Linked DNA regions of Homo sapiens. The protein of the gene in region 1 interacts with the protein of each later gene in a pairwise test. Each region holds a gene or a part of one and is shown on either strand. Other genes may lie near its edges.

Region 1 (2,788 bases):
GTGGGAGGATCACTTGAGTCCAGGAGTTCAAGACTGCAGTGAGCCGTAATTGCACCACTGCACTCCAGCCTGGGCAACAGAGTCAGACCTTGTCTCAAAAACAGAAAACCAAAAAACCCCACAACAACTGAAAACACATCGTGGCCCTGTCAAGTGGGCCCATGGAAGAATACCAGACGCTGGACCTGCCCCCACGTTCTGCGGCACAAGCCTGGTCTTGTAAGGCAGAGTAAACGTGAATTACTTCCCAGAAAAAGCTGCCAAGATCCCTCAGGATGTCTACCTCCAGACATTTACAGGACAGTGACATCCGTGAGCATGCTATCTGCTAACTAAGAGGTCTTGGTGCACTCTCCATCAATGTCCCTAATGGGCACACTAAAATACTGCCACACTTTGTGAAAGTAGCAGGGACAGAGAATGTCAACAGTCTACTTCCAGGAAAGCAGTCATGTGAAACTATGGTGGGAAGAGGTCCCCATGTCTATGCAACTCTCCTCTAACCCTGAGGGAGTGGCAGGGCACACCTCTAAAAAACTGTGATTCTTCCCCTGGGACACATCAGAGTCTCTTGGTGGACAGGAGCACCCATCTCCCCCTCATCACCCTGGCCCAGGGCCAGGCCAGAGCACCTATATTTTGCAATGTCACACAGAGTCTGACGCAAGTGCTGGCTGGAGGAGCACCTGCTCGGTGGAGCAAGTGGCTCCAAGATGCCTCTGCACAGGAAGGCTATGTCTCCCTCAAGGCCCCACCCCTTCCTCTTCCTCCCAAGGACAGGCTCTTGCATTTTTTTCCTTCATGATTTTTATAAATCAAGACATGCTCTTTGTAGACAATTTGCAAGGGATGTAAAAACATACAAGCAGCACCTTCAAATCACTTGCAATCTCACTCCTCTGAAGTCATCAATGTTAACACCTCAACATTTTCCCCTCTGTGAACATCTCCACCTAGCACATGCACAAGTTTATATTTTATCACAGTAAATATACAATTTCATATTCTTTTCACTAAAAATAGCATAAGCAGGTGGACAATGAAAAAGGTCTTACTACATGTTATCCAACAGCCTTTTTCATTTCCTCTTTTGCAAGCTGTCAGCTCACGCTGCTTGCCCATTTACCTTCTGGCTAAACCAAACACTCGCTTGGGACCAGCTCATGATGAGCATACTTTACTTCTACCATTTATTTTTAGGAAATGAGAAAAATTCCATTCCAAAGCCATAAAGCTTTGGTTTACCAACATCCTTACATTAAAAGAGAAGTGGACAGTCTTCTTATGTTCGATATTTAGAAACGACAAGGGTAAGGGCCTGCAGCAAGTGCCCAGCATGGGGCCGGAGAAATGCGCACATCTTCACGTTTCCCACACCAGGCAGCCTAAGAACGAAGGTCACTCAGCCCAGACGCAGGCCTCCAGATGACGCCCCACCCTGCCACCTGTTCCGCCTGTGTCTCTCTACACAGATGCATTTCTGCCAGCTGCTGAGAACTTCTTCATTAAAAGGCATGTGCTGGGTGCTAAGATTTTCATATTTTTTCAAACTATGCTTGGAATTCAAAAATTATACGTCATTAAACTACATGCCCAACTCCTGGCCCACACAGATGAAAGTGTTAGTGTTACTGTCCGTGATTCCTGGACTATGTGGTAATTTAAACACTTCTTAGAAAGAAAAAGCCTCATCACAACTCAGTCAGCAGTAGAAAAGGGTGAGTCACATTCTGTTTTTAGTGCATGATGTGACAAGACCCTACTACCACAGAAGTACTCCCGCAAAAATTCTTTGAGATACAAAGCAAAAACCAAGGGAATGATTCAATAGATATGAAGGAAACACTCTCCTAGAGAAACATGACAAGCTGAATCGCAAAAGGGAGGCAGGAAATTAAAACAGCAAACGTCATACATGCGAGCCAGGGAACTCCCTAAATGATGCTGCAGACACTTTCCCCTGGAGAGAAGATACTGTCAAAGTCATGTGAGTGGGTCCCCAAAAGGACTCAACTTTCTAAAAACCAAAGGGAATCTATAAAAAGGGAGCAAACATCCAGTGTATTAGGCTCTAAAGGACCAAGAGTTAATTTCTTTTTCCACTAAAACATCTGCATCTACGTTTACTAACTGGAAGTCCGCTCCCCCTTGTTAATGTCCTGCTTGCAGGGGCTTCCGGGGTAGTTGCCGTTAAGAACTGCACCTGGAATACTGATTAGGCAAGTGTGAAAAAATCAAGCGACCATCCCATGGCGGACGTTCACAGCAGTCTGCACGCATGGGAGAAAACCCCTTTGTAGGCCTCCTGGAATCCGAGAAAAGGACGTGCCATGGGTAAGAAAGCCACCCTGTCCTCTGTACGAGAGGGATGAGGAGCTGCTGGGAGGCCAACTGAGAGACAAGCAAGTGGAAGGCTTGGGGCAGGCAGGGCTCCACAGATTCTCTGCTGTTTTGCCCCACACAAACATTGCACCACTGCACTCCAGCCAGGGCAACAGAAGAATCCTGTCAGTCTCTGCGTCCTCCATATGTTCATACAGGCCATGAAAGCTAAGAATTCTCACGGCCACATTCAAGCTCGGGTAAGAGATAGACTGGGAAAAACAACCTTTAAAAGATCCATACCACACATAACATCCTGACACTACAACCCTTTTATGTCCCTAAGGACACTTTTTTTTTTTTTTTTTTTTTGAGGCAGAGCCTCGCTCTGTCACCCAGGTTGGAGTGCAGTGGTGTGATCTTGGCTCACTGCAACCTCCGCATCCCAGGTTCAAGAGATTCTCGT
Region 2 (3,651 bases), on another chromosome or scaffold:
GGCACATGATGGATACTTTTTTTTTTTTTTTTTTAGACAGAGTCTAGCTCTGTCGCCCAGGCTGGAGTGCAGTGGCCCAATCTCGGCTCACTGCAAGCTCCACCTTCTGGGTTCACGCCATTCTCCTGCCTCAGCCTCCCTAGTAGCTGGAACTACAGGCACCCGCCACCATGCCCGGCTAATTTTTTGTGTTTTTAGTAGAGATGGGGTTTCACTGTGTTAGCCAGGATGGTCTCTAGCCAGGATGGTCTCGATCACCTGACCTCGTGATCTGCCCGCCTCAGTCTCCCAAAGTGCTGGGATTACAGGCGTGAGCCACTGCGCCCAGCCCCATGATGGATACTTTTTAAAAGCTAGTGAGGCCTGACTTATTCCCTGTCCCGCCATCAATGAGACTCCTCACAGATGGTGTGGAGGGAAGCCGCCTCCCTTCGGCCTCCCTTTCCTGAGAGAATCTTGGTGGCTCTGCATCCCCAGTGGCCCTGGACACGCTCTCCCTCTGCGGTCTGTCTATCTGTCTGTCTCCCCTGGTTGGTCGGCTGGGCTCACAGTGAGCCCACCTGGACAAACATGCTGGGCCCCTTCCAGCCCCTCAAGAATCTCATCCTCCCCTGAGGAGGGACTGCTGTGCTCAGGGACGAGACAGAGCCGCCGGGGCTGGGGTTCCCTGAAGAGGCCTTGCTGCGGGAGGGATGGGGCCGAGCAGCTGCTTGTCTCTGTCACCTCTTCTCTCTGTCCTGTTCCCCGTTAACCAAGAAGCACGAACCTCACACAGAGCTCACCCATGTCAGGCAGCTTTCTGGCATCTTCCATGTCCTCATGTATTTAATCTTCAAGCACCCCACTGAGGCAGGTGCTGAGAATCTCCCGTTTTACACGTGGGGAAGCTGAGGCACAGGAAAGGAAAGCGATTTGCCCAGGTTCACCTGCAGTCAAGGGCATGGGCACACTTACACCCCAGACAGCCTGGACCCATGCTGGGACGCGAGAAGAGGGCTGGCAGCCCTGTGAGGCAGGCGGGCAGGAGGCAGGCAGGCCTCCTCCCCAGCTGCCCCAGCACCCGTGTGCCCCCAGAGGGGACGGCTCAGAGTCAGGAGGCTGGTGAGCAGGGCCCAGAGGCGCCTCCTGAGGCGCCATTCATCTTGGCCCCCCTGGCTGTCAGGAACCCCGACTTGCTCTTGATGCAGTGTCTGAGCCTGGGAGGGTCTCGCTCCAGAACAGGTGAGTGGGCTTCTCTAGGCCTCCTGTTGGACACTAGGAGGTGATGGTCATGGTTTCCTCTTCTCTCCTCTAGCTCAGTTTGCCCAGCTGGCCCAGCTGAGCCCCCAGGAGCGTCTGAGCCGGGAGACGGCCCTCCAGCAGAAGCAGGTGTCTCTGGAGGCCTGGTTGCAGCGTGAGGCACAGACACTGCAGCAGTACCGCGTGGTGAGTGGGGTCCTGGGCCTCTCCTGGGCGTGGGTGCCATGAAGTCAGTCTCTGGGGACCCGAGGGAGGGCTGGGACCAGCATGAGAGCAGAACCTGGGAGGGCAGGAGGCCTTTTTTCCTGGGGGCCTTGCGAGGCAGAGCAGCTTGGGGAGAGGGAACGGCCTGGGCCCTGCCCTGCCATTTCCCAGCGAGGCCCTGCGGTGTTCTCTGGGAGCCCAGAAGGGGCTGCTCTCCTCCCTTCCCTCAGGAGCTGGCCGAGAAGCACCAGAAGACCCTGCAGCTGCTGCGGAAGCAGCAGACCATCATCCTGGATGACGAGCTGATCCAGTGGAAGCGGCGGCAGCAGCTGGCCGGGAACGGCGGGCCCCCCGAGGGCAGCCTGGACGTGCTACAGTCCTGGTAATGGTGTGGGGCGGCCAGCGGGCAGGGCAGGAGGGGCTGGTGGGGACCCCGGCTGCTTCTGCGTCCTGTGCTGGCTCCTGCAGCAGGCCCCCTCCATCCTGGGACAGCTCTTGTTTCTCCAGGGAGCCTGGTTCCTCAATCAGACTTTGGTCCCCATCCTGTGCACCTCCCCCAGGAAGGGGGCTGCTGTCCTGGGGGTGGGATGGGGCTCGGGTGTGTGGGGTGATGCTTGGGCTGTTTGGGCCTAGTCAGGGTCGCCCCTCCTGTGTACGTCTCTAATTCTGGGAGGCAGGGAGCTCTGCTCTTCCCATGGGTGGGAAGTGTGGCGAAAGCACAGAGCCTTCCTGGGGGAACGGGAGCTGTGTCTTGGGGCCTGGCGTCTGTGAGGAGAAGCCATTGTCCTCCTGTTGGCCTTGGGGCTCTCGTGCAGGTGTGAGAAGTTGGCCGAGATCATCTGGCAGAACCGGCAGCAGATCCGCAGGGCTGAGCACCTCTGCCAGCAGCTGCCCATCCCCGGCCCAGTGGAGGAGATGCTGGCCGAGGTCAACGCCACCATCACGGACATTATCTCAGCCCTGGTGACCAGGTGACTGCTGCCTGTTTGCCATGCCCAGGAGCTTGGGGCAGCTCCTGCCTGCGTGGGGGGAGCTGCAGGTGCCTTCCAGACCAGCAGATCCACTTCCTGCCTCTCATCCCTCCCAACTCCATCTCCAGTTGCTGTGGCTGCTAGGTGCCGCCCTTGCCCAGTTTCTCCTGTGGACACTGCAAGAGATACCCTGGGCCGCAGCCCATGCCAGCTGCTGTGTTATCTCACTCCCCTCTCCATCCTCTCCCTGGACTCTCACAGCTTCCCCGGGAACAGAGGTTGTGCCCGAGCTCATCACCTCCTGAGCCCCATGGGAGGCAGCCCCACCCCCACCACAGAGGGACTGAGAGCCCTTTCCCCTGCGCCAACCCCTCATCGTGTGTCTGTCCCTGTGTCCCATGCAGCACATTCATCATTGAGAAGCAGCCTCCTCAGGTCCTGAAGACCCAGACCAAGTTTGCAGCCACCGTACGCCTGCTGGTGGGCGGGAAGCTGAACGTGCACATGAATCCCCCCCAGGTGAAGGCCACCATCATCAGTGAGCAGCAGGCCAAGTCTCTGCTTAAAAATGAGAACACCCGCAAGTAATTGTGCCTCTCCCTTCCCCTGCCCAAGCTTAGGTGTGGGGGACCTGCACCCCCCGCTTTGTCCTTGCATCCAGCTATGTCTTGTCCCCTAGTTCACCGTGTTGCCCAGGCTGGTCTCGAACTCCTGGACTCATGCAGTCTTCCCACCTCAGCCTCCCAAAGTGCTGAGTTGATAGGCGTGAGCCACCACACCCAGCCGAGTATCCGTTCTTTACCCTGGGGATGGTGTGGCTGCCGGAGAGCTGAGGCTCACTGCCACTGCCCAGCATTGTGAGAGACTATCACACCACTTTCTCCTGAAAGTGTATTGCTTCACACCATTGTAAATTCAAACAATCATGTCAAACCATCATTAAATCTGGGACAGATGGTACACTGCCTTCCTCCTACTCAGATGCCTTCCCTGTCCCTGCAACAAGCTTGGTGCTAGGCTAGATGCCGTGGCTTACCCCTGTAATCCCAGCACTTTGGGAGGCCACGGTCGGAGGATCACTTGAGCCCAAAAGTTTGAGTTGGACAATATAGGGAGACCCTCATCGCTACAAAAAGTTTTAAAATTAGCTGGGCATGGTGGTGCACGCACTTGTAGTCCCAGCTACTCGGGAAGCTGAGGTGGTAGGATCATTTGAGCCTAGGAATTTGATACTACA
Region 3 (3,651 bases), on another chromosome or scaffold:
GGCATGAACCCGGGAGGCGGAGCTTGCAGTGAGCCGAGATCACGCCACTGCACTCCAGCCTGGGGGGCAGAGTGAGACTCTGTCTCAAAAAAAAAATAAAATAAAAGTATCTTTACCCACTTCTCTGTAGTGAATATTGACTAGCATTTTGAAGTAGGAACTAACAAAGTATAAAATTAAGTAGATTTTTTATATTTATGGGTATTGTTCTAGTACAAATTTATGGTGTACACTGTCGGTCTGAGTGTGGGTTTAAAATATATCATTGTGCTTGGCTAATTTGTAGAATGTCTTATTTGAATTGACTTCATTTATTTCAGAGGAATGCATAGATGATCAGATCAAACTGTCGTCATAGCAGTGTTTTCAGCACATACGAGAATCTTAGAGTTTAGGAGCCTTAGAGCTCACCCAGTGCAATTTCCTGCCGGAAGCAGATTCCTTCCTGGTGACCTCACCAACAGGTGCTTGTGCAGCCTTTTCCTGAAAACTTTTTGGGAAAGTGGGGGCTGCTACCTCACTACTTTGATGTGTACCTTTTGTTCAAGAACTTTCTAAAACTTGGAGCTAATCATGGGTTATTTCAGAAGATGTAAGCATTTTAAGTTTTTTATTGAATTCCATCCTTATTTAAAAGGCCTGGTTATGTAATATTTTCTGTTTTTTTTTTTTTTTTTTGTATGGTTTCCCACATTGATTAGGTTGTTTTCTTCATTTTCTTAATAGATTAAAAATACTTTCTTCTCTTTCTATTTGTGTCTTCTTCCATTTAGTATTTATGGGAGGGAGCAAGAAGGGAAAGGATGTCTATTTTTAAAATTGACTACAATCATGACTGTTCTTCTTGTCATTCTGTAGCAGCTGGATTTATTACCATCTCTTATTTAAAGGTCCTTCAGAACACGTTGAAGCAGTTCATTTCAGGTCAATGGCTGGTAAGCAATGTCAGGACCTCTGGGGAAGGAGAAGCTGACGGGATCCCAGAGGAAAGAATTGAGGTTGTTTGCTCCCTTGTAGAAAGCCCACAGATCCCTTCCCAGACTAGAAAAAAAGTGCCAGAGTGTCCTGAAACTTTCCTTCTAAGGCACATACTTCAAAGAGACTGGGGATTCCTTTGTTTTAAATATAGGTGGGGTCTCACAGTGTTGCCCAGGCTGGGCTCAAGCGATCCTGCCACCTGGGCCTCCCAAAGTGATGGGATTACAGGCATGAGCCACCATGCACGGCCATGGAGATTCTAATGTGGTGCCAGCTGCCAGGTAAGAAAGCTGTGAGACAATGTGTTGATTTTCCTTTACTACGTCAGGTTTGAGGACATCATCTAGCATCAACGGGTAACGTCACCCTTTGTTCCATCTTTGGGAAATAATAGTAGTAGCTTGTTACTGTTAGCTGACCCCTACATTAGCATCAATAAAGTAAATCCCTTTAACTTTCCTTTTGGCCTTTCCTTTCTCTCTCTCTGCCTCCCCACCAGCCCCGACTCTCTCCTGTGTGCGTACACATCCACACACACCTCCATGGTATTCCTTCTTTCTCCCACCTAAGGGAAGCTGTGCCCGATCTTGCTGCAGTCCAGGTCACCGTACTGAGATGAGTCAGCCACAGACTCTAAACACTAGCAGCGATTAGCCGTATGTAGCCACCAAGTGCACTGTTTTAGACAGGTTTACACAGCTCTTTGCTGTCCACTCATATCAGCTGTGTAGTAGCCCAAGGCAGCCTGTCAGGCAGAAGAATTACCAACCAAAGTGGATCTATTCATAAGATAAAAGATCCGGAGTCCGTGCCCTCTTAAAAAACTTTTGTCTTCAGACATATGGGTGCGTGTTCATCTCTGGCCAAAACTTTGTTTCCAGTTTCAAAGGGCTGGTTGCGAAGGTGGCCTTGTAACCTTTCTGTTGCCGGCTCTGTTAGTTGCCTGATAAGCAGTAGCTAATTCATCCTCCTCAGAATTTGAGAGTGGCATCTATTAGATTCAGACCACCAAGGTGCCTGCGCGGGCTCTCCTGGTTACGACTGAGTCCCCTTTTCTCATCTGTGGGGTGAACGCTTCTATTTGCAGAAATTTGCTTGCATCTTTTTCCTTTTATTTATTATTACTTTTTAGAGATGCGGCCTTGCTCTGTTGCCCAGGCTGGAGTGCGGTGGACTCTTTTCTTTTGTTGATCTTTGCCATCCTCTGCCTGGCTTAATGAGGTTCTTTCCCTGCGTATTTATGTCCCAGGAGCTCACCTTCCCCCTAGGTTTTTAAGAAGGAAGCAGAAAATGTTACAAAGTATAAGGGATTCTATGAAGTCCATAGATAGGATTTGCTTTGGGAGTAGATGATTTCTTCTTATTTTGGTGTAAACATCAATTTGGATGGCAATTAGAATGTCTTTAGCCTCTTTAAAAAGCCCTTCTGGGGCAAACCTTTGCAAGTCACTCAGCTGGCATGTAATGAGATTTTTATTTGCATGGCTTTTTTTTTCTAAGTCTCTCTAGAAGAACATAAGGACATTCTGAACATGCAAGGAATACAGTTATTCTCACATCAAGGATCAATTTTATTTTGTATCTTCATTTTATGTCATTTTCCTTTATTTTATTCACATTAATCTAGCATTAATTCCCCCCAGAGGGAATGATATTTTTGGTTGCTGCCACCTGTGTTATTAAGTGACAGCTTTTCTTTATCTGCTTTTCTGAATTTCATATTTATATACTTTATTGTAGTTTTTTAAAATCTATTCTAGCTGGGCTAGAATCTTCCAAGTATTAATTCATAATGAACTTCCCTCTTCTGGAATTGTTTAGGAGGGCTAATGTTCCATGTTCCCTTCGTTGCTATAGATATGAAGTTATTTCGATGTTCTTTGAGTGCTTTATTATAGCGATAACTGGTACTGCCTTTGATTAAAGGTGAGCTATATGGAGTTAAGCATTTTTATACTAGTAACTATTTATTGAGAATTTTCAGAATTCTATAGCTACTTGTCTTTAACAGTTATAAGAGGCATGTATTTTTTTTTCCTTCATGGTCTGGAAGTTAGTTTTCTCTTTGTTTGGGTAGATCGGAATGAGTTGTTGAGCTGTGTTGAAAACACACATGAATCAAAAAAGCAGATGTATTGTAGAAATGTGATGTTTTCATGTTTCGGGAATTTGACCGGAAAGCTTTATGTATGGGTTTTATTTTTAACAAAGCAGTAAGGGCTTACTTTTTACCAACTTGTGTGTGTGTAAAGATGTATTTGTTCAAGCTTTAAGAATAAACCTGTCAATGTACAAATGCCTGATATCTGACTTGGACTTGTGGTTTGTTTGTTTGTTTGTTTGTTTGCTTTTCGGGGCGTGGGGGTAGGTATGTTGGATCTTGGAAATAAGTGAGAGTGTTAAAGAAGCACAACAATCTGTATCAGTGAATTTACATCTTAGAAGACTCACATTAACTTATGCTTGAATGAAAACCGTGTGTGGATAACTGAATGCAGCGTTTTCTGAACTGCCCTGAAGGACGGCTTAAAAGGAGAAGGAAGCCACTCGCCCATTTAGTGTTCTGAAAGGTCTTTTCCCCTAGGACCCATTCATGCCTCCCTTCATCAAGCCCCCATCCTTCGAGGGTTCCAGAAAATGAGCCCCGGAGCAGATGATTGAGGGAGGGCACGC

The links.
Region 2: the proteins of TXNDC11 (region 1) and STAT5A interact in a two-hybrid assay, tested with the Homo sapiens proteins (one large-scale study listed by BioGRID and IntAct).
Region 3: the proteins of TXNDC11 (region 1) and RPS6KA5 interact in a two-hybrid assay, tested with the Homo sapiens proteins (one large-scale study listed by BioGRID and IntAct).

What each region holds. Positions count from the first base shown.
Region 1 is NC_000016.10:11,681,076-11,683,863, forward strand, and holds part of TXNDC11 (thioredoxin domain-containing protein 11), read right to left. Parts: intron 1-2,788. UniProt on the Homo sapiens protein: May act as a redox regulator involved in DUOX proteins folding. The interaction with DUOX1 and DUOX2 suggest that it belongs to a multiprotein complex constituting the thyroid H(2)O(2) generating system.
Region 2 is NC_000017.11:42,298,457-42,302,107, forward strand, and holds part of STAT5A (signal transducer and activator of transcription 5A), read left to right. Parts: intron 1-1,294; coding exon 1,295-1,425; intron 1,426-1,673; coding exon 1,674-1,825; intron 1,826-2,258; coding exon 2,259-2,414; intron 2,415-2,818; coding exon 2,819-2,998; intron 2,999-3,651. UniProt on the Homo sapiens protein: Carries out a dual function: signal transduction and activation of transcription. Mediates cellular responses to the cytokine KITLG/SCF and other growth factors. Mediates cellular responses to ERBB4.
Region 3 is NC_000014.9:90,847,491-90,851,141, reverse strand, and holds the end of RPS6KA5 (ribosomal protein S6 kinase alpha-5), read left to right. Parts: 3' UTR 1-3,281; downstream 3,282-3,651. UniProt on the Homo sapiens protein: Serine/threonine-protein kinase that is required for the mitogen or stress-induced phosphorylation of the transcription factors CREB1 and ATF1 and for the regulation of the transcription factors RELA, STAT3 and ETV1/ER81, and that contributes to gene activation by histone phosphorylation and functions in the regulation of inflammatory genes.